Regions from separate parts of the Homo sapiens genome. Here all the other regions are linked to region 3. Evidence: fine-mapped expression QTL. A gene starts in region 3. Each other region holds a variant in brackets. All regions are shown on one strand. Distances are between the middles of the regions. Region 1 has its middle 240 kb from the start of KCNS3. Region 2 has its middle 310 kb from the start of KCNS3. Region 3 holds the start of KCNS3 (potassium voltage-gated channel modifier subfamily S member 3).

What was found.
Region 1: its variant is fine-mapped to the expression of KCNS3 in gastroesophageal junction (GTEx, PIP 0.96).
Region 2: its variant is fine-mapped to the expression of KCNS3 in subcutaneous fat (TwinsUK, PIP 0.92).

What each region holds. Positions count from the first base shown.
Region 1 is chr2:18,114,194-18,122,376 of GRCh38, reverse strand. No RefSeq gene overlaps it. Among named protein-coding and RNA genes, the nearest start is that of KCNS3, 240 kb to the right of the region's middle. The variant A/C (reference allele first, on the strand shown) is at 3,795.
Region 2 is chr2:18,186,526-18,194,708 of GRCh38, reverse strand. No RefSeq gene overlaps it. Among named protein-coding and RNA genes, the nearest start is that of KCNS3, 310 kb to the right of the region's middle. The variant T/G (reference allele first, on the strand shown) is at 3,349.
Region 3 is chr2:17,874,089-17,882,271 of GRCh38, reverse strand. It overlaps KCNS3 (potassium voltage-gated channel modifier subfamily S member 3), which reads right to left and starts at 3,605. Exons shown (of 3, transcript NM_002252.5): 1 at 3,466-3,605. It overlaps LOC124907737 (a long non-coding RNA gene), which reads left to right and starts at 5,710. Exons shown (of 2, transcript XR_007086226.1): 1 at 5,710-6,907. RefSeq lists silencers at 3,485-3,534, 3,625-3,824, 3,835-3,994.

The DNA of each region.
Region 1 (8,183 bases), 240 kb before region 3:
ACCAAAATTCATGCCATAAACATATCCATCACCTCCAAAAGTCTTCTCCACCATCTTTATTTATTAGTAGTAGTAGTAATAAGAACAGTTAATATAAGATCTTTCTTAGTACATTTTAAGTATGCAATACAGTTTTGTCTATTATAGGCATTATTCTGTGCAGTGGGTCTCTATGATCTATATTCATCTTGTGTAACTAAATCTTAGTAGCCTTTGACTAGTAACTCCAGTTTCCGCCTCCCCCCGACCCCTGACAACCACCATTCTATTCTCTTCTTTTATAAGTTTGACTATTTTTAATTCCACACATAAGTGAGATCATACAGTATTTGTTCTTCCGTGTTTGGCATATTTCACTTAACACAATGCCCTCCAGGTTCATCCATGTTGTTGAAAATGACAGGATTTTTTTTTCTTTTTATGCCCCAAATAATATTCCATTCTATGCATATACCACATTTTCTTTAACCATTCATCCATCAATAAACATTCAGGTTGCTTCCACATCTTGGGTGATGTGATGTTACAATGAACGTAGGAGTACAGACATCTCTTCAAGATCCTAATTCCTTTGAGTATATACCCAGAAGTGAGAGAGACTGCTGGTTCACAGGGTAGGTTTAATGTTAGGTTGTTTTGGGGGCTTTTTTTTTTTGGTATGTTTGTTTTAGTTTTAGTTTTTGTTTTGAGAAACCTCCATACCCATTTTCCATAGTGGCTGCACCAATTTACATTCCTACCAACAGCGTACAGGGTTCCCTTTTTATCCATATCCTCACCAACATTTGCCTTTCATCTTTTTGAGAATAAGCAATCTAACAGGTGTGAGGTGATATCTTATTGTGGTTTTCATTTGCATTTCATTGATAATTAGTGATGTTGAGTACATTTTCATATATCTGTCGGCCATTTGTATGTCTTCTTTAGAGAAATGTCTACTAGTTCCTTTATCAATTTTTTAATCTGATTATTTGATTTTTTGCTATTGAGTTATATGAGTTCCTTATGGTTTGAATGTTAATCCCTTATCAGATGTGGTTTACAAATATTTTCTCGCATTTTTAGGTTGTCTTTTCATTTCATTGATTATTTCCTTTGCTTTGCAGAAGCTTTTTAGTTTCATATAATCCCACTCATCTATTTTTGCTTTTGTTGCCTGTTTCATATCCGAGAAATCATTGCCAAGGCCAATGTCAAGAAGCTTTTTCCCTATATGTTCTTCTTCTGTTATGATTATTATTACTACTACTGCTGCTGCTGCTAGTATTATTGCTTCCTCTCTGTCTGTCTTGTCAGTTGGTCTAGCAGTTGAGCCAGAAAGCATTTATTCCTACGTTCTTTTTAACCTTCATAATGCTACAGTACCAGTAGAGGATCTTAAAACATGGTCAGGTTTATTTTCCTAAAATTTAACAGCTGAGTTCAGCAAACATCTATTGAATCTTTTCAATATGTCAATAAGTGTGGTAGACAGATGCCTCTGTACATATAGATTAAGGAAGAAGCCAATCTATGGTGTGATTTCAATGGTAACATAAATGCCATGCAGTCCTCTCCCAGATTTCCTTTTTCTGATGCTTGCTGCTCTGAATTCAACCACTTATGCACTATTTGTTTAGTTTACTCTCAGTCAAAATGTAAACTCCCCTGGGAGAGCTTTTTTGTTGTTGTTGTTCTTTCAAAACTTCTGTTTGTAATGGAGGGACTGGAGAGCATTTTCCTGAAAGCAAAAGAGAGTGAGGATTCCAACAACTAAAGGAGGAAGGGGATGCAAGGCATCTAAGACAGTGACTTGAGACCAAGTCAGTCCTTACCCAGCCTTTTTCAAGGGAAAGGCTACAAAGCAACTGCCAGAGAGCTGCATTGCTGGATGGAATGATTACCTCAGTGAGGACCAAGTGTGTGGCCCACCTGGAGCCTTCCATAGAAGATAATGTCTGTCTTGTCCCTATCTATCCCTCTGGGGTCACATGAATTCCACCGAAGCTGCAGCACTAACCCATCCCAGGAGCTGGTAGGATATATGGCTCCTCTCCCCACTGCCATCTTTGTCCTGAATTGGTGATAGCATTCTGAATCTATGAGCTTCCCAGTGTCAGCTCTGGTTGGACATTCTCTTGGGAACAAAGCCAGGCAGAGACACAGGGTAAGAGCTGATGATGCCTCCTGCCTGCCATTGCTACATTTGGTAGCCTGCCAGTCTAATTGCCAGAGAGCGGTTCACCAGCTTCCAACTGCCTTCAGTTTCATTTCCAAAGAGCAATGCTGACAAGTGATCGCCTCCGTGTCTCCTGGCAACAGCCAACTTATAAACACACATAATTAACCTCCCCTGTCATCATGGAAGAAATATGTTTAGATGGTTTAGAAATTCAATTTAATTTGGTAAGTCATACACCAGGCCTGGCCTGACTCCCATGAAGGAGTCAGAGTTGTATAAATAATGTCTCTTGCCCTCAACAACCTAGTAATGTACTGGAGAAGAGAGACTCAAACACAGAAACGGACCCTTAGTAGCATCTAAGAGAAGTCTGATTAAAAGATGCATGGAAGCTGACTGTCTCTGGTGTGCAGCAGGGTGAAATATTTATAAAGAGAGATGTTTTCTCAATTGGAATGGATTCCACATAAAAAAGTGTGAGAAATTGGTACTGACCATATTAAGCGTAAGAGAACAAGCTACTGAAGGCGAAAAAGCAGAGAAGGCAGGGCACCACAGCAGAAGACACAGCCCGTGCAGGACAGAGGGAGGAAGGCTAAGACTTACACATGGTCTGGTGCAGCGGAAGTTTGTGGAGACCACGTGGCAGAGATGAGGTTGGTGTGAAGGAAGCTGGGATCAGATTATGGATTATCAAGAGCTTTGAGATTCTGCTAAGAAACTTCTTCTTTCAAGTAATTAGTGTTTGACAAAGGTCAAACACTCCCCGCTGTGTTTTAGGAAAGGTAATGTAGCGGCTGGATGGGGAGGACCTGTGATGCAGGCCAGATACCAGGGAAAAATAGGAAACAGTTATCTATTTCCGAGACCCTGGCGGACCCCACTCAAAGGCAAACTGCAAGGGGAGAATGGGAACAATCAAAGCCATGAGTTCTGAAAATAGCCTCTATCTATGTACATTGATAAGCTTTCCCATGGAAAATGGGTAGCTGGTAGATTGTCTGAGCCTCAGTCTACATCCCAGTGAATGCTGGCAAACACAGATAGAACCCTGGGACCAGAGACAGGCTCCAAATTCAACAGTCATGCATCCGCTGAGTCCCCAGGGGCCTGAGCACAGTGGGCTAAGCCCTGTGCAGGAGAGTCCTGAGCTTTCTAGAGCGTTCCTCTTGACAGACAGATCTACCCAGTTCAGAGCTACCCTGTTACCCAAAATCCCTGTAGAAAACTCCAAGGAGACTTGGAGCAAGGAAACACCACATTCGCTGACTCACTCTCTCATCTACAGCACAAATATTTGTGGAGTTCACTCCAATGATTAAATCCTTTCGACAAAGGGAAAGGACTTTACAGTGCTCTTTATTAGTTATTGGATTTTCCATTTCTCAATGCGAGGGTGGAGAAGAAGATGCAATAAAGGCAAACAGTTTGAAATTGATTGTTTGCTTCTCTCCAGGGTAATTTCCTGGTAACTGACAAAATACACAGACTATTAGAAGCATTCGTGGACTTATGGTAAAATCTTTTTCTTTGTATTTTATATTTTTAAAAATCCCTTAAGCCACAGTTTTGTTTTTAATATAGGGTCTGGAGGTTGGTGGCCCTCTTCTCACAGCTCCACTGGGCAGTGCCA[A/C]AGTAGGGACTCTGTGTGGGGGCTCCAACCCCATATTTCCCTTCTGCACTGCCCGAGCAGAGTTTCTACATGAGACCCCTCCCCTGCAGCAAACTTCTGCCTGGACATGGTTGTATTTTGAATTGTGAGGACATGAGATTTGGCAGGGGCAGGGATGGAATGATACGGTTTGGCTGTGTCTCTACCCAAATCTCATCTTGAATTGTAATTCCCATAATCCCAACCTGTCAGGGGAGGGACAAGGTAAAGATAGTTCAATCATGGGGGCAGGTTTTTCCTGTGCTATGCTCATGATAGTGAATAAGTCTCCCAAGATCTGATGGTTCTATAGGGTGCAGTTCTCCTGCACAAGCTCTCTTGCCTGCCCCCATATAAGACATGCCTTTGCTCCTCCTCTGCCTTTCACCATGATTGTGAGGCTTCCCCAGCCATGTGAAACTGTGAGTCTATTAAACCTCCTTTTCTTTGTGAATTGCCCAGTCTTGGGTATGTCTTTATTAGCAGCATGAGAACAGACTAATACAGGGAGAAAAAAAGAAAGAGAAAACCACAAAACAACCAAAAAAATAAAAAAATGGCAGATGTAAGTTCTTTCTTATTGATGATAACATTTAATGTAAATTGACTAAACTCTCTAATAAAAAGACAAAAAGTGAAACAAAAAATGAGAATAATAACACAAACCTCATACGGCAGCTGTGTGCAGGTTCACCATCATGTGGCAGTGGAAAGCACTGCATTGCAGAGCTCTAGGGGGCGCCTTTCACAAAGACTACAAAGTAAATGGTGCCTGCTGCAGCTGAGCAGTGTACAACCTGCACAACCATATGGGGCAGCCCTGGCTCTGAAAGAAGATCAGGGGAATTAAGGCTATGAAACCACTTATTAAACTGTAACAGCTGTTGTAATTATCACAACTATTGTCAGGGATATCCAAAGGAATGCCTGAATCCCAACAGTGATCTGCCTCTAGCCAGGAGCATTACTGAGCCATGAGCAGCTTGAATTGAAGACCAGACAGCAACGAAATCCTAAACACTGCAAATGGAAAATCTTACAGGCCATTTGACCTGTGGAAGAAAGTAGATCAGGGATTCCAGAAAAATGGAGCAAATGTGAACAGTAGCAGATGTACGTTGTGTTTACTTCGCTCCAGACATTCTTCAAAGCATGTTACATGTATTGTCTCATTAAATCATCACTCCCACTCAATTAGTGGGTACTGTTATCACATCCAATTTACAGACGACAAAATGCTACACAGGACATTAGGCATTAGACCAAGCTACCATGGTTTGTTTGTAAGCAGTGGAACAGAGAGCTGAACCCAGGCAGTCATCTCCAGGGCCCGTGATCTCAACCACCTCCCTGGTCTGAGCAGAGGACAAACCTTACTGCACCATGAGGCTTCCTATGCAGAGTCTGAGCATCAGCCATCCATTAGGGAAACAGACAAGGCCAACAAATCAAGCACAGAGGGTGCCTTGAGCACTTCCTAGATGCTCTGTAAACTCCATGGGCCCAAGGAGGAGAGTATAAAAACATGACAAGGTTTCTGCCTTTCAGGAGCTCACGCTGTATCTAAGACAATACTAAGGCAAAAACAAAAACAAAACAGGAGATAATTAATCAAAAAAGCACATTCAATCATGTGGTAGGGGTTAAGCATCCCTAATCCAAAAGTCTGAAATCCAGAATGTTCCAAACTCTGAAACTTTTTGAGCACAGACATGATGCTCAAAGAAAATGCTCATTGGAGCATCTCAGATTTTGGATTTTCAGATTAAGGATGCTGAACTGGTATAATGCAAATATTCCAAAATCAAAAAAAAAAAAATCTGAAATCCAAAACACTCTGGTCCCAAGCATTTTGGAAGAGGGAACTCAACCTGTACCATGCAGAAGGATTTCTAGCAAAAGAAAAGTATTTTCTGAAAGGTTTTCTGAAGGGTCTGGAGCCTGATTAGGGTTTTGGAAAGAACAATTTGAAAGGAGGTGGTAGAGGGAGGTGGCTCTCTCCAAATTTCTCTCTCTCGGTGTGGATCCGGGTGTGGGTGAGTCATTGAGGCAGAGATACTACTCTGACTTGCCAGAGATACTACTTGTAGAAATTAGTTGAAGGGAAAAACAAATAATCTGGATATGATGGCAATAGTTTCCGCCCCAAGCTGATACTCATTTTGTCTTTTATATTGCTCCCTTGATGAAGGAGGTGAGGTTTTTACATTATTATAAAGCAAATAAAACCATGAATGATGTTTGATAATATATATAGCTCATTTTATGTACCTTTAGGTAATTTTATTATGTAATACTTATGTAGCTTTTATATTATACAATATTTATATCAGGTTTCAACAGTTATAAAGTCTTCCCCTTCTTTGGAACTATATTAGTCCATTTTCACACTGCTGATAAAGACATTACCAAGACTGGGTAATTTATAAAGAAAAAAAGGTCTAATGGACTCAGTTCCACATGGCTTGGGAGGCCTCGCAATCAAAGCAGAAGGTGAAAGGCATGTCTTACCTAGTGGCAGGCAAGAGAGAACATCAGAGCCAAGTGAAAGGGGAAACCCCTTATCAAACCATCAGATCTCAAGACTTATTCACTACCATGAGAATAGTATGGGGGAAACCACCCCCATGATTCAATTATCTCCCACCAGCTCCCTCCAACACCATGGGGGAATTATGGGAGCTACAATTCAAGATGAGATTTGGGTGGGGACACAGCCAAACCACATCATTCTGCCCCTGGTCCCTCCCAAATTTTATGTCCTCACGTTTCAAAACCAATCATGCCTTCCCAACAGTCCCCCAAAGTCTTAACTCGTTTCAGCATTAACTCAAAAGTCCACAGTCCAAAGTCTCATCTTAGACAAGGCAACTCCTTTCCATCGATGAACCTGTAAAATCAAAAGCAAGTTAGTTACTTCCCAGATACAATACAGGTACAGGCATTGGGCAAATAAATCCGCTCCAGATAGGAAAATGGCCAAAACAAAGGAGCCATGCAAGTTTGAGATCCAATAGGGCAGTCATTAAAACTTAAAGTTCCAAAATGATCTCTTTTGACTCTATGTCTCACATCCAGAGCACGCTGATGCAAGAAGTAGGCTCCCATGGCCTTGGGCTTTGCAGGGTGCAGCCCCCCTCCTGGCTGCTCTCACAGCTGGCATTGAGTATCTGCAGGTTTTCCAGGTGCACAGTGCAAGCTGTCGGTGGATCTACCATTCTGGGGTCTGGAGGACAGTGGCCCTCTTCTCACAGCTCCATTAGGCAGTGACCCAGTAGGGACTCTGTATAGGGCTCCAACCCCACATTTCCCTTCCACACTGCCCTAGCAGAGGTTCTCCATGAGGGCCCTGCCCCTGCAGCAAAATTCTGCCTGGACATCCAGGTATTTGCATACATCCTCTGAAATCTAGGCAGAGGTTCCCAAACCTCAATTCTTGATTTCCATGCACCCACAGGCTCAATACCACATGGAAGTTGCCAAGACTTGGGGTTTACACCCTCTAAAGCAACAGCCCAAGCTGTACCTTGGCCCCTTTTAGCCATGGCTGGAGTGGCTGGGATGCAGGGTACGAAGTCCCTAAGCTGCACACAGCAGGGGGACCCTGGGCCTGGCCCATAAAACCAATGCTTGCTCCTAGGCCTCCAGACCTGTAATGGGAGGGGCTGCCAAGAAGGTTTCTGACAAGCCCTGGGGACATTTTCCCCATTGCCTTGGTGATTAACATTTGGCTCCTTATTACTTATGCAAATTTCTGTAGCCAGCTTGAATTTCTTCTCAGAAAATGGGGTTTTCTTTTCTATTGCATGGTCATGCTGCAAATTTTCCAAACTTTTATGCTCTGCTTCTTCTTGAACGATATGCTGCTTAGAAATTTCTTCCCGCAGATACCCTAAATCATCTCTCTCAAGTTCAAAGTTCCACAGATTTCTAGGGCAGAAGCAAAATGCTGCCAGTCTCTTTGCATCGCAAGAGTGACCTTTACTCTAGTTCCCAATAAGTTCCTCATCTCCATGTGAGACCACCTCAGCCTGGACCATATTGTCCATATCACTATCAGCATTTTGGTCAAAGCCATTCAACAAGTCTCTAGGAAGTTCCAAACTTTGCCACATCTTCCTGTCTTCTTCTGAGCCCTCCAAACTGTTCCAAACTATGCCTGTTATCCAGTTCCAAAGTCACTTCCACATTTTCAGCTATCTTTACAGCAGCACCCCACTGCTGGTACCAATTCACTGTATTAGCCACTTTTCACACTGCTGATAAAGACATACCCAAGACTGGATAATTTATAAAGAAAAAGAGGTTTAATGGACTCACAGTTCCATGTGGCTGGGAAGGCCGCACAATCATGGCGGAAGGCAAAAGGCA
Region 2 (8,183 bases), 310 kb before region 3:
AGAAAGAGTTCTGGGAAAATATTACAGAGTAGAAGTAAAAGTATCCTTTCCCTTTTCTCTGTGATCATACTTCTGCTATCTCTTTTCCAACATCTGTAAATAATTTATGTATATAAAAATAGAAAAGCAATATATTGTATATATACATATATATGTAATGTACATACAAATAAGAGAGGAGGAATTCACAAACAGCAAAGTGATCTTTCTGAGTTGAAAATGTAACTGCCCAATGTGTTCTTCTTGCCCACTGCCTAGATAGAGCTGATTCATCAAGACAGGGGAATTGCAATAAGAATACTGTACACATCAAACAAAGCAGTGCAATGGGTAAACCATTAGGACCTCTGTACAGTCACAGGGCAGTCAACCAACTTCAAAAGTGGAGCGAGGCAGGGGAAGTCTGAGGCCACTGCTCTGCCATTGAGTCACACACTGACCTTGAGTTTCTGATCTCAGCTACCCAACTGATGTCTTTATTTAGGGGAAAGTTTTATTTTTTTCTCAGAAACTAGAAGGCTAACACACAAATCAGGCCCTAGGTACTCAGTTATTGATCAGTCCAAGCTGATCAATTGTATCATTGGCTGCTTCAGTGGCACTTTCAATTGCTATCAACTAAGAAGGGAATGTAAAGCCCAAAATTGACTGGACTTCAGTCTTCAGAGAAAATCTGAAACTGGCTTCTCAGGTTTCAACATCCGTGGCCATTCCACTAACAGATACTAGGAAGATGAGATAGCAGAGCTGAAATTACATATATTGCCTTAGAAAATCAAAGATCCAGGAGAAAAGAACAATTCTGTTTTATATCTGTGACAGACATCTCAATATCTCTGTTGGCTGAGGATGTGCCATTTAGCCAGTTATAACAGCCTACTCTCATCATAACAGAGTAAGGCAGAGGTGTCATCCATAGAATGAAAGACTTTCAGACTACTGCAAACATCTACTAAGCATATTTGAAGCATAAAGGAAAACAACATGTAATTTCCTTTCAGATTCCTCTGAAGAAAACTTGTATAGGATAAAGGATTTATCTTCGACTTCTTGAAAGGATGTAATTTACAATAAAAAATTATATATTGGTGAGGTGGAATTTAGGACAAGTGGATAAAACAAATGAGACAAATTTCGACTCAATATGAGAAGCTTCTAACCTGCAAGCTGCCTACCAATGGGATGGAGATGCAGTCATTGTGCAATGTTCACGCTGAAGCAGAACGACCTTTCAGGGGTGATTTGCCCCACTTGCAGGTCATTCTCAAGTGTGATTCAGTAATGTTTTCTTCCAATCTTTAAGACTATATAATTTCCTTAAATTCCTTTGAGGAGGATCAGGTAATAAACACAAAATATTGCTCATACCTAAATGATTGCAATTTCCATTTTCACTCTGTCTCCCCTATAAATTTATTTGACATCTTTTACTATGTGAATTTAATAACATTTCATTTAACAAATAAGAACCCTGATTCCTCATCATTCTATGACCCCAATGATATGCAAAAAAACAGAAACCAACAAATGTAGTTTATATTTTAAATGCACTTGGGTTCAGTTTCAAGAGAGTCCTTGAAGTGTACTGTTGGCAGATTTGGTTTTGCAAACACACGTCTCTCTGAGGAAGGTGAACAGTAGATTGTGTTTCTCAAGAGACCCTGCTGATTTTTGTTTCCAACTGAAAAATGTAAATTCTTTTCATTCAACTCTTAGAAATTTTTTGAATTCTTCAATTTCTCACAGATGGTTCCAAACTCATTTCTTTCAGGAGAAACTTCAGAAAAAGACAATCACAGGGGACATCATTTTTTATGAGGACTAATGAGACATTGTCAATAATGTAGGCTGTAGTCCCGGGAAGAATAGCATGAGAGAAAAATTAAAGATCAACAGCATTCATTATCTTCAAAATGGTCTCTCTTCCAAATAAAAGGAACACAATTATGCAGAATAAAGTTTAATATTTTCAAATGCTGCTCAAATTTTCAAATGTAGAGATACGCTTGTTGTATTAGTCCATTCTCATGCTGCTAATAAAGACATACCTGAGACTGGGTAATTTATAAAGGAAAGAGGTTTAATTGTCTCACAGATCAGCATGGCTGGGAGCCCTCAGGAAACTTACAATCATGGTGGAAGGGAAAGCAAACACATCCTTCTTCATATGGCAGCAGCAAGGAGAAGAATGAGTGCCCAGTGATGGCATACTTATAAAACATATAAGGTTTTATAAAACCATCAGATCTTGTGAGAACTCACTATCACGAGAACACGATGGGGGAAACTACCCCATGATTCATTTATCCCCACCTCATCTCTCCCAACACACATGGGGATTATGGGAACTACAATTCAGGATGAGATTTGGGTGGGGACACAGCCAACCCACATCACTTGTTTGTGAGTCTGAGTTTATAGGCCAGAGTACAAACTGGAGTACAAATTCTGCCAATGGCAGTAGATTTTCCTTTTCAGGTTCATGTCATGCTCCCTGAATTCTGATAATCACAAAGGCCTGACCCAGGAGGAATTTTATGGTAAAGACCCTGTCTGCTGAGAGATGGTGTTGGAGAAATGGCTGCCACTCTTAGGATAGTTTACATCATCCTATTCTCCCTCACATTCAAGGAAAGAGAAAAAAAATGGTGGGTAATGATTTCTATTTTAATCATTTGGTGCAATTTTTAAATGAGGAAACCTATATTCCCCTATGAAATGCATGCTCTTTCCAAAAAACTTTTTCATCCAAGCAATACCCTGATAGACCCAGTCACTCCTGTCTTAGTCGATTCAGGCTGTTAAAACAAAGTATTATAGACTGGGTGGCTTATAAACCACAGAAATTTATTCTTATGAGTTCTGCAGACTAGAAGTCCAAGATCAGGGTGCCAGCATGGTCAGGTTCTGGTAAGGGCCCTCTGCTGGGTTGCAGACTGTTGACTTCTCATTGTATCCTACAGGTGGGAAAAAAAATATCAAGAGAGCTCTCTGGGGCCTCTTTAATCAGGGCACTAATTGCATTCATGAGGGCTCAACTCTCTCTCATGACCTAATCAACTCCCAAAGGCTCCTCCTAATACCATCAGCTTAGGGGTGAGGATTTCAAGGTATAAACTTCAGGGGATACAAACATGCAGTCATAATGCCTTATTTACAGAAAATGTGTTTGTACCTTTCCATTTTAATATAGGCAGCCTAAATATGTAAAAGAAATGAATTTAGACCTAAAAATACTCATACTTTATGGTTTAGTGATATCCCTCTATATTCATTTATTTAGTTTTCAAAACAATTCTGTAAGTAGCTTTTATGAAGTTGCCAGTGATAACAGAACACTTGAAGACT[T/G]GTCTAAGATTTAATAGCTATTAAATGGCATCACCAGAACCAGTCTCTGACTTCCTAACCCACCCTGTTTCTCTTCTAGCCCTGGGTGGAATCATAGTGTTAAGAATCAGATATGGAAACTTTCTTACCCATGTATTAATTTAGCTGATCTGAATGCTCTCCTTTAGGAAGATTTTCAGCATTTCTCTAGACTTGAAGGCTTTTATAAGGGTAAGAAACTCAAAAGTAATAAAGTAGACTCCTTTCACACTAAAAATGATTTCTGACACCATCTAGCATTCCTGTCATATTTCTCAATGTGTCCTGAGAAGTGACCAGCAGGTAAGTTAATGCTTATATGTTTCATAGGGAAGTTGGTAGCAACCAAGTAAATTGAATCCAAGTGAAAGCCTGTTTATTCATTATTCACAAATTCAAATGGTATCTTTTATGGTTGGCAGCCTATGAAACTCATTCTGGTCTCATTTCTTTTTTATTTTTGTTTATTTTCATTTCCCAAAATAAATCCATAACTTTGGAATTATCAGATACACAATAGCTTAGCTAATGATGAACTGATCTGTAAACTACAACTGTCCTCATCCTAAGTAATTATTTCACTTGAAATGGAAATGGATTTACCTTGAGGGTTGTGCAGACCCTTAGAAAAATGCAGGAGACCTCACATTTTCTCTATTTTCCAGCATAGGATGAGCTACAGCCTGCAAACTGCAACAGGGAATCATGTGGGGTGGAATCTGCACAGATGACAGTTTCACACTGGTGGACCTGACAGATGACACACTTATTAATATCATTAACACTGAGCAGCTAACTATTCCAGCCCTTCCTAAAGAATTTAAGAGTGCTCAAAATTCTGAAACCCTCTGAAACAAGGGCATTTAGAGATATGACTTTTCTAAGTATACAGGTATTGCATGGCTCATTCAAAACCCTGACCTCACACTCTTGGAAGCTGTAACTAGTTGATTTCCACTTCAGCCTGCCCTGGATTCTGAGGTCAATACTGGAGGCAGTTGGAAGGGTATGTAGAGTCCGTAAAGTGTAGTGGCATTTGCTATGGAGTATGATGGAAACAACTCATGGGTCCAGCTTTTTTTGACCATCTTCTTTATTCTGCTCCAAATCAATGCATGTAAAGGTTCCGGCTTCCTGTTCCTCTATGACTAACATCCTGAACTCCAATTTCTTCCCAAGCCCTTCCCTGCCTTACCTACCAACTCCCTCTCTATAAAAATTATGTTCTCTGTCCCTGAACAAAATATTTTTATGGCTACATCTCTTATATCAATTACTCTCTGGTACAACCTCTGCAAAATTCTTAATTAGTGATATTTCTACTTTGTTCATCTGTCCCGCCTGTCTTGTTTCTCACTACACTAATCACCTAATTTGTGACAAAACTTCAAACTCATGTCCTTTCATGCCTGAATCTAGAAGAAAAGCAAGCAAGCAAGCAAGAGCCTCTGAGACATGACTTCTTCCTTTTTCAGAGCTCCTCAAATGTCACCATAAGATTCAAGTGAAAATTCTGGGCCAAATTTTAGGTGAGATATTCAGACAACAAACATGGTTTAGTAGCATTGGGCTCCCCATTCAGAGCCTCCAGCATTTTGAGTTTGAACACAGTGGTACTTTGTATTGAACTATGGATATGATTAAGAAATAAGTAACAGTGTGTGGTCCTGTTTTTTTTCCAGGTAAATCACTTATTGCCAGGAAGCATTTCACCTGTTCAATACTTAGATGGAAGAGGGATGCAATATCCCATTTCCATCATTGACGTCTGTCAATCAACTATGACAAATTTCATAAATTATCCTCAAGCCTCTAATCTTAATTTTCTTCCAAATCCAAGAAGCAATATGATTACCACTCTTCTTTTCCTAGCGTTTTAGTGTTCCAAATAACTCCATAAACAAGAGGTACTGAAAAAAAATCTGTGTCACGGGGATATAGATCCCCTTAATGGAAATGTATACTTAACCTTGAATATTTAATCTTCAAACCGTTCAATCAACCATGAATTATCCACTGTAAAATACATTGGGCTTTGAGCTTATCTGATTTCACTTTACATTATGAGCTGATGTTATACATACCCTCCAGAGAACTGCCCTTTCCCTCCTAGGTACCTTCAGCCTCCCTGGGTCTCTTTTCTCTCTGAGAGGATGGATTTTTTGGGTGGTGGGGGTGCTTTAGATTTTTTGGCCGACCCAGAGAATATCAAAGGAGAAAGAGTCCTTGGAGATCTTCCAAATATGACTCCTCATTTCTTAGATAAGGAAACAAAGATAAGGGAAAAGTGAAGGATCCAATGCTACTCAGCCAGAACACAGATCACTCGACTCCCAACTAATTATGCCAGCAGTAGGTGCTGAGTTTCTTTTCTTTACCAGGCATTGCCCTGGGTTTTGTGAATATAAAAAACAGTCCTTGACTTCCAGCAGCCTGTGCACACCACTGCCTCCTCCTTGAAGTTCAGATGCATCATTTAAGGTATTTGCCTTAACTCAAATTATATTTTCTTAAGAAGCTTCTGGAAGCTTTTCATTTTATCAGCCTCAGAGGACAATCTCACCAGACTGAAAACTAAATGCCTGTTTACTAAGCCAAGTGGTTGAGACCTTGAGGAAGAGCAAAAGGACAACCCCCCTGAATGTGCACATTGACCTTGTCCTCCCAGCAGCCCTGCAGTCAATGGCTATGATTTAGTCTGGAGCATCTGCCAGATCCAGATTAGGGAGACCCTCCTTTTCACTTCCATAATACCCCCTGTGCTTACTTGATTTGTGGGTATATGTATCTGTCTCTTCCATTAGACTCGAGCTTCTCCAGGATGTAATTATGCATTCTACCCATAATGCTTAGCATGGTGCCAGGCACTTAGTAGGTTCATGCTAAATAATTTTCAAATCCATTAATATTCATATATTTAAATTAGCTTGGCATGGCATGGCTAGGAAACAAGTGCTAGGAAAAGGGATTTAGAGGCTGTGAATTTGCTCTTCATCCTGTAGTTTCTCTGAAAGTGCTTTTGGCCCTGTCACTTTTCAGTCCCTACCTACAATCAGCACGTGCAGGACAGTCACCTTTTGGCAAGGAAGGCAAGTTGTCCCTCACCTGGGATCCCTGCCCCCTCTGCACCTAGAGCACACAGCTGCAGCTGTGTTTCTGCACCTGCGGAATCCAAAGCTGTGTGCACAGTCCCAGAGCAATGCAGGCAAAGTTGCACAGGAAAGAAACATTAACACATTCTGTCACAATGTAAAGTTAACTTTACATTCATGGTGGGGAAAAGTAATAGAAAGGTTTTCAAGCATAAAAGGATCTTCTACTTCAACTACAAAAAAAAAAAAAAAGAAGAAAAAGAAGAAGAAAAATGCCTCACAAACAACATCTTCCCTTGGACATCAAATTGCTCTGCTGACAGGATTCTTAATCAAAAAGTCCAAAGAAGAAAGATGAGTGGAATTTACAAAGATTCAGCCAGAGAGAATAAATGAAGACATTTGCTGTGCTTCTGTAGGTGAAAAAAAGATGGCAGATACTCACGACTCTGTTCTGGAGGCTCTGGAACTTGTTATTGGATCAATTACTCTGAGTCCCCAGACACACTGACCTGAGCAGCATCAGTGTTCCCCAGGACATGGGCTGTTATCAGTAGGATTTCCGCTGTGCATGCTGATTAGAGGAGATGGTGACCAAGAGGCCCTGAACGGTGGACAGCAGCCCCCTCTGCCTGGAAGCCTTTGATACCATGGAGCATCACCTAAGTTCTGCATTCTCAATTATAACCAAGTTAAATTACTTTATGTATTTATTAAATCACTATTTAGAAACTTACTGTGAGTCATACTTGGCTTCAAACACCTCTGCCTGCCATGAGAAAACTCTGAGCATGAAGAAAATGTTTATTTACTATAAAACTTTGGCATTTTAGGCTGCAGACATCTGTTGCCAGAAAGAATAAAGAAAGAAAATGAAGGAGGAGGGAAGAGAAGATTCAGTAACTTCTTGAGCTGGTATGATTGCCTAACCCTGTGAGGGAATAGCAGGTATTTGACGTGAGGCTCAAAATAAAAGCAATTGCATTTTGCTTCTGCTTATGTTTCTTCCAGAGTTCTTTGCAAACATTCCAAAATTCTGATGTGAAAGTCATGACACCCCACTAGGATGAATGCAGCTTTCAGCGCATAGATTATTTTCTTTTTTATTGATGCATAATGGATGTGCATATTACATAGTAGATTTTTAATCCACAGTGGTTGCTATGCCATGACTTGATTGGGTTTACAAAGCATAATTTTTCTTCCAAGTCTCATCAAATCAGCTCACTTCCTCTGGCTCCCTGATTACATAGATGTCATTATGCCAAGACTCTCAATAGGGCTGGAAAACCAACACACACAGCCCTATATATATTAACTGCCATAAGTCCCAACAAAAAGGATGATGTAACCAATAAAAAGTCACAGTGGCTCTGGCCAGCTCCTCATGGTTGGGCCTCAGCAAACTCACAGAAGGAGCAGGCTGCAAGCAAAACACTAGGGATAGGAAGATGAGTGGGACCCACGCCTGACTTGGCGAGCTCATAGCCTAGTGTGAAGAAGGGAAATGTGAACTAGACATGCAACAGATAACACCCATAAAACCCAAAAAGAATCATAACACAGGAGGGCATGTTGTGGGTAGTCCAAGTACAGGCTAAGTAATTCTGTGTGTAGTGGTGAGGTGGGGTAGTAGGAAGTGTTCTAGAAAAAAGGCAGCATTTCAGTTAGAACCTGAAATATGTGTTGAAGTTCACGTTAAGGAAAGAAGTGGAAGGGTGTTTC
Region 3 (8,183 bases):
CCGAGTCATTGTGATTTTTATCAGGACTTAAACATTTAGCATCTTGTATTGTTCTATCTTGTCTCACTGATCTGGAGTCTCCAGATCCACTATAAGTTCAAGCTCAGAGACCATGTCATAGATTCTGCCTACCTTCATTGCCTGTAGTACTGGGCACTTAGCACCCATACAATAAGCACTTGTGAATTGGTCACTGGTTGATTTACTTGACAAATTTGCGTCGGAGTACAAAGTGTTCTGTGGTTTTTCTGAATTTCTTATATTGATAAACACATTTTCTGAAACTCACCATAATGTTTCCCTGGCCCATGATCTTTATGGTTTATCTTCCTTTTTTCCTAACCAGCTGGGCAGAATTTCACCGAAAAGCAGACCATTTTGTCAAAGGCAAAAATAATATTTTGCTAACGCAGTCTTTGAGATTCCTTTTAAGGCTGAGACATGGGACCCAAAAGTCACTTGGTAACTGTAAGCCCCCTCTGTCACTGTTCAACAAATGTAGTCCGAGATCCCACTAAGCACAGGGAACAGTGTTGGAACTGTAGGAATAAATGAGGAAAACTGAATCTCACAGTGGCTCTGCAGTCAGACTGCAAGGGATAGAATCCTAGCTTCACCTTTTCCGGGCTGGGTGACCTTGTACAAGTTACTCAGTTTGTCTCTCTTTCCTCCTGTAAAATACGGTGATAATAGAACCTACCATCCTAAGATTGTCATCAGGATGAAGTGAGTTCATACATGTAAAAGCTTTTAGCTTTTAGTGCCTAGTACAGCGTAACAACAAATATTAGAGATCTAGGTCAGTGCAGCTAAACAGACCAAGACCCAGATTAGCAAAATGACATGTCAAGTCAAGGAGCCATAAAGAAATAGATATCACAGCTGGAAACTGGGTCCCCACATCCTATTCTCTTCTCTATGATGTTTCTTTGTGGGTATTTCACACAGGTGGCACTCTGGAAGATGCACTTTCCTGACACCTGATAAGCAGAGTCAATAAACACACCCACCTTCTCTGCTTCAACATACCCTGCAGAGTCGTCCTTCCTCCTAGTGAGACCTCAGGCCCACCATTTCCCACTGGCCTCCCATCTGACTCAACATGCACCTGGGGGGTTCCATCTACTGCTGGCTCCCACAGCAATACTGCAGTGAAGAAAGCAAGCATCACATCCTCATGCAGTTGTTATGGGAATTAAATGAGATAATGCCTGGAAAAGTGCCTAGCAGAGTATCTGATATATAGTATGCAGCTAATAAATGTTATCTATTAAAAAATAGAAGGAAAAGGAGGAGGAAAACCCTGTGGTGCCTACTCTCTCAAAGCTGACACACATTCCAATGGCAAATGCCAGACACAGGGCAGATTGAGATGGGTGGTAGAACAGAGGGATGCACGTCTGTGAAGAATTACAGTGAAGGGCAAAACCCACTGAAGACAGGAGGGAGCTGCAGTTCCCACTCTCCCCCTTCCTTCTTAAAAGAAGATGATGATACTCAGTTGGTGCTTTGCTGGCAAACTCAAGCTCCAGAGCTTTGGATTTTTAATATTATAATATTTCAGAACAGAACAAAGACTGCTTCTGACCTCCCAATTTGCCCTCATACACTTGACCAGCAAAACCTTAGCGTAGCTGCATTCATCAATGGCTCTATTCAGGCAATTATGGGTCAGACAAAAGATTCAATTAATACTGATCCCGCAAGTCTCCTTAGTATATTCACAACATGCTTTGGATTCAGAGTTCTATGGCACCTTCATATGACCTTCTCCGGATCCCAATATTGACAATTCCTAGTTCAGAAACGACAAACATAATATTAGAACAAGAGAAGAAGGGAAGCTGGTGAGAAAGAAAGAACAGACTAGACTGGGTGCAGAAATTATATCATCCATTTGCTGTCTGTCCCCGAGTGCATCCTGGGGCCTGGCCCATGGCGGGCTGGTTGGAAATGCATACTGAACGAGTCAATCTCCTCAAGAAGGTCACCACCCAGGTAAGAAGTGGAGCCTGCACATTACACCAAGTTCAGCTAGAGAATCAAAGCCACCTCTTCGGCTCCAGATATGCAGGGAAGACAAAGCACGAGGGCATATGCCTTCAGCTAAGAGATAGGTGCGTGCTTCCTGTTTACCTGGGCAGGTATTTGCAAATAGTCTAAGAAGGGGGGCAACTAGGAGTGACTTACACAGTTCCAAGTGAATGGTTACGCAAATCGCTTGAGTAAATACAGGGAAAGAAACAGGAAAGGCTTCTGAACTGTTTGTACTCATCTGCTCCAGTATTTTCAGAGGGTAGGGTGAAAGACAAAAAACCCGAACGAAGGCTCCGGGCCAACCACAAAGCTACTCTCCGGCAGGAACGTAAGGAACACCTACCGCCCCTCCCCCCACTTCACGCCTTGGCACCAAACCAGGGCCCCTGGGTCATTTTGGCAGGTGGAGGTAGCTCTTTGCTGTCCTCTGCCCCTGCTGCGGGCCACCCGAGTGAAGCTTTCGGCTCGGTCTCCCCAGACAAAACCGGGGGGAGACATCAAGAATGCAAAAGGTGCTCCTTTCTCCAAATGAACGAGAAGGGACAGAGCGGGGTTGGGGGTGCAGGACAAGCCCTGCAATGCGAAAGGCGCCCAGCCAGGCTCGCCGCGGCCCCTGCCGGCAAGACTGGCTCGCTTGCTAGCCAAGGTGCCTCAGGAGGTCGGGCAGCCACCCAGAAAGGCGCGAAAAAAAAAAGAGGAGTTCCTGACCCCGGGGTGACCCTTCCCCACCACTGCCACTGATCCAAACGCAGAGTCCGCAAGTGACTCCACACCTGCGCTGCAAGCCTCACGCCGTCCCCACCCAGGGCGCAGCGCTGCACGAGAGCAAGGGCCCTGGGTTCGCTCTTCCCTGCAACTGTCGCGGGGCGCCTAGCACAGCTGCAGGGCAAAGGGGAGGGGAGGAATGACAAAGAAGGCGGAGCAGACGGCCCGGGAAGCATTTACAAGCGCCAGGAAAGCGCCTCCTCTCGAGGAAGGGAAGGAACGGCTTCCCGGCCAAGGAAACGCCCCGGGGATGCCCCTACGCGAGGTGCCGCCTTTCTTCGGCTCATCGATTCTCCCGCCTCCAGGTGGTCCTCCCCCTGACCATAGCCCACCCCACTCCCCGAAAGCTGATCCTAAATACCTTCCCCGAGGCTTTCAAATCAACCCAGCCACCGCTTCAACAGCCCGCAGTTCACGCAACAGGCGGAGCCTTAGGGCTCCAGCGACGGCGGGCTCTGGGGACCAGAGGATGCGGGCGCCGCGGGCCAGACGCCCAGAAGGACGGAAAGTGCTCTGCGGCCGTAGACCCTCGGGGTCGTGCACCCGCGACCTGGACCACAGGAGACTGGGGCAGCAAAAGGTGGGGGAAGGCGCGGTAAAGTTGCAGGGTCGCCCGGAGAAGTCTCCGGAGCGCGCAGGGAGGTGGGGACGCCAGCCAGGTACCTGCAGGAGTCCGGACGCATCCAGCTAGCTCCGCTCTGCGACGCCGCCTGCCCGCGCTGCAGGGATCAGGCCTCGCGGCGCGGCCCCGCGCCTGCCGCCGCGGCGGCGAGGAGAGCGGGGTGGCCCGCGTCGGCCGGTCTGTCCGTCGGTCCCGCCCCGCTAGAGCGAGGCTCCCGGGAGCTGCGGGCGGGGCGGGGCCGGACGGGACGGGGCGGGGCCCGCCGCTCGGCCGCCGCCCCATTGGTCGCAGCTCCGCCAGCCCCTCGCTTCGGGCCCGCAGCCGGGCGCCCCGGGCCGAGGGCGCGGGCGGCTGAGGACTGCGGGGCTCCGACCGCCAGACAGGCGGACAGACCCATAGACCTAGATGCTGCCCTGCCGGCCGCGCGCCCCCGCCCAGGCCCAAGTGCAGAGTCACCCCGGAGCGGCAGGCGCTGTCCGGGTGGGACCAGGAGCGCGCCCCGCGCCTCCCACCTGCGCGCCCTCCTGGGCCGGAAGCGCCGTGGCCCTGCGGGAAAAAGATGACCTCCCCCGCGGCCCCGGCGGCTGGGGCAACCGCCTTTCTAAAGTCGCGGCCCAAGCGACACTTTGCTAATTTGCCTGGATTTCCTCAGGAAATCGCGAGGCCCAAACTTGTTTTAAAACAAAGTGCGAAGGAGAGTACATATAGCTCCAGTTCCTGCCAATGTTTGCCATCGGTCCCGCTGCCTGAAGACTCAGGCACAGTGCAGAACAAGATGCTTTGTCTTATTCCTCCACTCACCGAGTCAGAAGAGGTGCTTGGACATTTGCACCAAGCAGATGCGCCTCATATGTAGAAGAGGAACCAGTCGGGTCCCCTTTCGGAAGGACGAATGGAAGAGGAAGTCAGGGGACGATGCCTTCAGCCGACGTTGAGGAACAAACCAGGACCTCGGCGAGGACAGCGTGTGGTCCAGAAGGCATCGCTGGCCTCGCTGCACTGAGCGAGAGCGCTCAGTTAACAGCCAGGAGGAGAAATGGGACGCTTCGGGACCCACCCCCGCGCTCCCCCTCCCGCCCCCAAACTGCAGATTTTTAAGTTGTGCAGACGTGGAACAATTCCTCGGAGCCAGCTGCTCCAAGCTAAGGCGCCCAGTGTTCCCTGGGTTCCTACCCGCAGCATACGCCCTGCCAGCTGCCCCCAAGCCAGCACCCGCTGACCACTCACCTCAGGCAAGCACCTAGGAAGACGATGCAGATTCAAGCTCCAGACCTTGAGCCAAGCGCTGGGGAGGGAATGGGGGCAAAGAGATGGTGGAAAACACTTTCCTGAACTTACTGAATACCCTATGTTATGTGTGGGTTTTCTAATTGTTCTTTGCTTAATGAAAAACCCACGTTGGAAATCAGAAAAAGGCAGTAATCCTCACCGTATCTTGTGGGCTTCAAAGAGGAGGTTTTCCCCTTAAAGGGAGTTTTGGTCCAGAGGAGAGGCTAACAGCAGGCAGGAAGGGCAGAGGAAAAGATAAAGCCTAGGGTGGTCTTCCCCCTGAGGCCTGGAGCCCACCAAGCTCCAACAGTTTCATTTGGCTTCTGGGAAGCAAAGTACAGATGCATGTGTCTGCAGAGCACTGTTCTGAGCCATTTGTCCCTAATTCCATGGTTCTTTGGTTCCTCCAATCTTGTCTCCTCTCCTGTGGAAGAGGATCCAAAGCATTGGTCCACACTGCTATTTACAAGTGGCTGAAGAAGGTAACTTTCTTACATAGTTCATCTTTAGCATAAGCTCTAAGATTGTTCTAAAAATATATTTACATTTTATCAACACCTTAGAAGAATGCTTCCAGATCTCTCCCAGCAGTTACCTATTTAATCATTTTAAAATCACTAAGTTTATCCAAAAAGTCCAGCATGGTTTACTTGAGAAGGAAATATGTTCAGAATCTCTAAGCACTGCAGAAGGCACCTGCAGTGCAGAAGAGTTGGCAGTGAGGTCTTTCTCCTGGGGTCTGGGCGGAACATGTGAGCAGTCGGGAAGGCACACACAGTGGGAGCCAGTAAGGGCCCCTGTGCATCTGCAGGAGCTGAGGACAGAAGGGGTGGGCCTCCACGGTGGGCATGTAGGAGTGGGCACAGAGAAGGGCCACAGATCTGAGACAGAGACAGACAGGACTTCTTACCCTGCTGAGCCCTGCAGGGAGCCACTTCGTCTTTCAGCCCTGATTTTGTCATCTGTAAGGAAATTTCCTCTCTCCCAGGGTAATCATGTGAAGCCAATGAAATAATAAAAAGGACCACATCGGATGACCCCTGAGGCAGGTCTGCTCCCCAAAAGTTTACTCTTGAATGTTGACCAAGGTTGAGCTAGGCAAAGTGGTAAATTCACACACACGGTATGTAGCCCCTTCCCCAACCCCAGTCTCCATTACCGGGGGCATGCTGTGAACTAACTGCCTCCTTTTCCCCACACACCCACTTCCTGCCCAGTCTTTATGCCTCCCGATATGACATCCCGTTCCCTCTTAATTAACTGTGCCTATAGAGAAACATCTAGATAAACCATGCATTTAATCTGTGAGGGGTCAATCATTTAATCATCGTTGACAATAATGCTCACTCCTCTGTGGTTTCAGAGGACTCCTGGAGTGGATGGAGACACATGCCACTAATGTGGGATGCATTTCAGTCTGTCTTCCAGGCCTCGTTTGGAGGTCTCCCTCTCTTACCCACCTATCACACATCCATGTCTTCCCTTCCCTCCCCAGAGCCAAACCTGTCCCCGACTTTTTATTCTCACTAAAGTTCAAATGACAGAAATCAGCTAGATTAGTACTTGCCTTAGTCCTGAAGGAAAGGGAAGTGCTCATTAGCTTCTTAAATTGGAACAGGTCTGCAGGTGAAAATGAAGATGTGCTCATCTCTGGCAGGAAGGTTGGGAGTGAGGGGTATAGTCATAATGAGCAGCGTTTATTTGGTGTGTGCCTCTCACTTGCCACTTTCTACCCAGCTGCCTGAATATCACTCCAGTTAGTCTGAGCACATGAAACACCTGCAACTCCCCAGACCCACCATGCTTTTTCTTGACTCTCTGAATGCACAGCAGTGCCTCCTCAGCTAAGAACACAGTTCCCCATCACCAAGCTTTGCTTTGCCCAACAGACCCCTTCTCCCTTAGGATGAGATTCAGTGGATAATCACATCATAATCACGACCCTCTGGGAAGCCGCCTCTCTCATCCTGGGTTGTGTGTTGTGTGTTTCCTTTCCACACTCCCTCAGCAGCCTTTGCCTCCCACTTTCATAGAATCTACCATATGGGATTTTAACTGTTTGTCTTCCACTAGACAATAAGCTCCTTGAAGACTGAATTTCCAGGAACTTCTGTTGGATCTGCATGTTTGTGAAGTGAATTACTGAAGGCTGCCCAGTTTCATCTGATCCTAGTCAAAACCTAAATCCCTTATTTCTACGCTACCTTTTGCCAGGTAAAAATAAAACATGTAAACCATCATATCGCTGTCTTTGCTTGGCTGCCAGGAAGCTCAGAACTAAATTTACATTAAATTAAATTTAGTTCTCAATCAGCTAGAATGTTTTTATTTCAGATTATTGCTACAATGATCATGCTCTTTTCACAAAATTATTGTATGCTTACTCTAACTGCCCTGTGGTATTATTTTTATATCAAAAGTTTCTTAAGGCCGGGTGCAGTGGCTCACATCTGTAATCCTAGCACTTTGGAAGGCCAAGGCGGGTAGATTGCTTGAGTCCAGGAGTTCAAGACCAGCCTTGGCAATATGGCAAAACCCTGCCTATATAACAAATACAAAAATTATCCAGGCATGGTGGTGCATGCCTGTAGTCCCAGCTAGTTGGGAGGCTGAGGCAGGAGGATTATTTGAACCTGGGATGTGGAGGTTGCAGTGAGCAGAGATGGTGCCATTGCCCTCCAGCCTGGGTGACAGAGAGAGACCCTGTCTAAAAAAAAAAGAAAAAGAAAAGAAAAAGAAAAATTCCTTAAATCTTTATGATCTTCAAGTACAAAGACTTGAATTCTGATTCAGCTCTGTCCCTGATTACCTCAGTGATATTTCCTCTTGGGCCCTACATTTGGGTTGGGACTATATCATCTTTAAGGCCCTTGCCAGGTCTAAAAGCTTTATGTTTCTATAGATAAAAGGAGACACTTTATAAATTATTAAAGAAAGAAAAAACCCTGTGACAGGCTATGTCTCCAGGCACAAAGGAATGCTGTCCTCAGGTACTCAGAATCACCCTCTGAAGGCCCTTGAGTATTGCCCAAGGTGAGTGCCACAGAACACCTGTGCCTGACCCTAGGCACGGAAAGGAAGGTGTTTACTCCATCACACTGGCAGGTCCTCATAACACTCTAGTATAGGAAAGGCTCTGTCTGAGAAGTTAGCCCATGAAAATATTTCCAGGGATGGCCTTCCAGATTGCTCATACTCTGGTCACAACTTGATTTTTTACCACATTTCAAGCTCTTCACACCTTTCTCTCTGCCTTACTCATTCATCACCACCTCCCCTCCCCTCTCCTCTGCACTTTCCTCACATTCCAGCCCGACAGAAGTGGCCCATCTCTCCTCTATGCTCACTGCATGCCATCTGAGTCTTGCCTTTCTGGTGCCTCGTTCCTATAGTGTTTCCTTCTCCACCGGAAAATGCCTGCTTAATCTCCAGGATCCAGTATATGTCACCCATTCTCTGAGGCTTTCTCTGACTCGCAAAGCAAATTTAG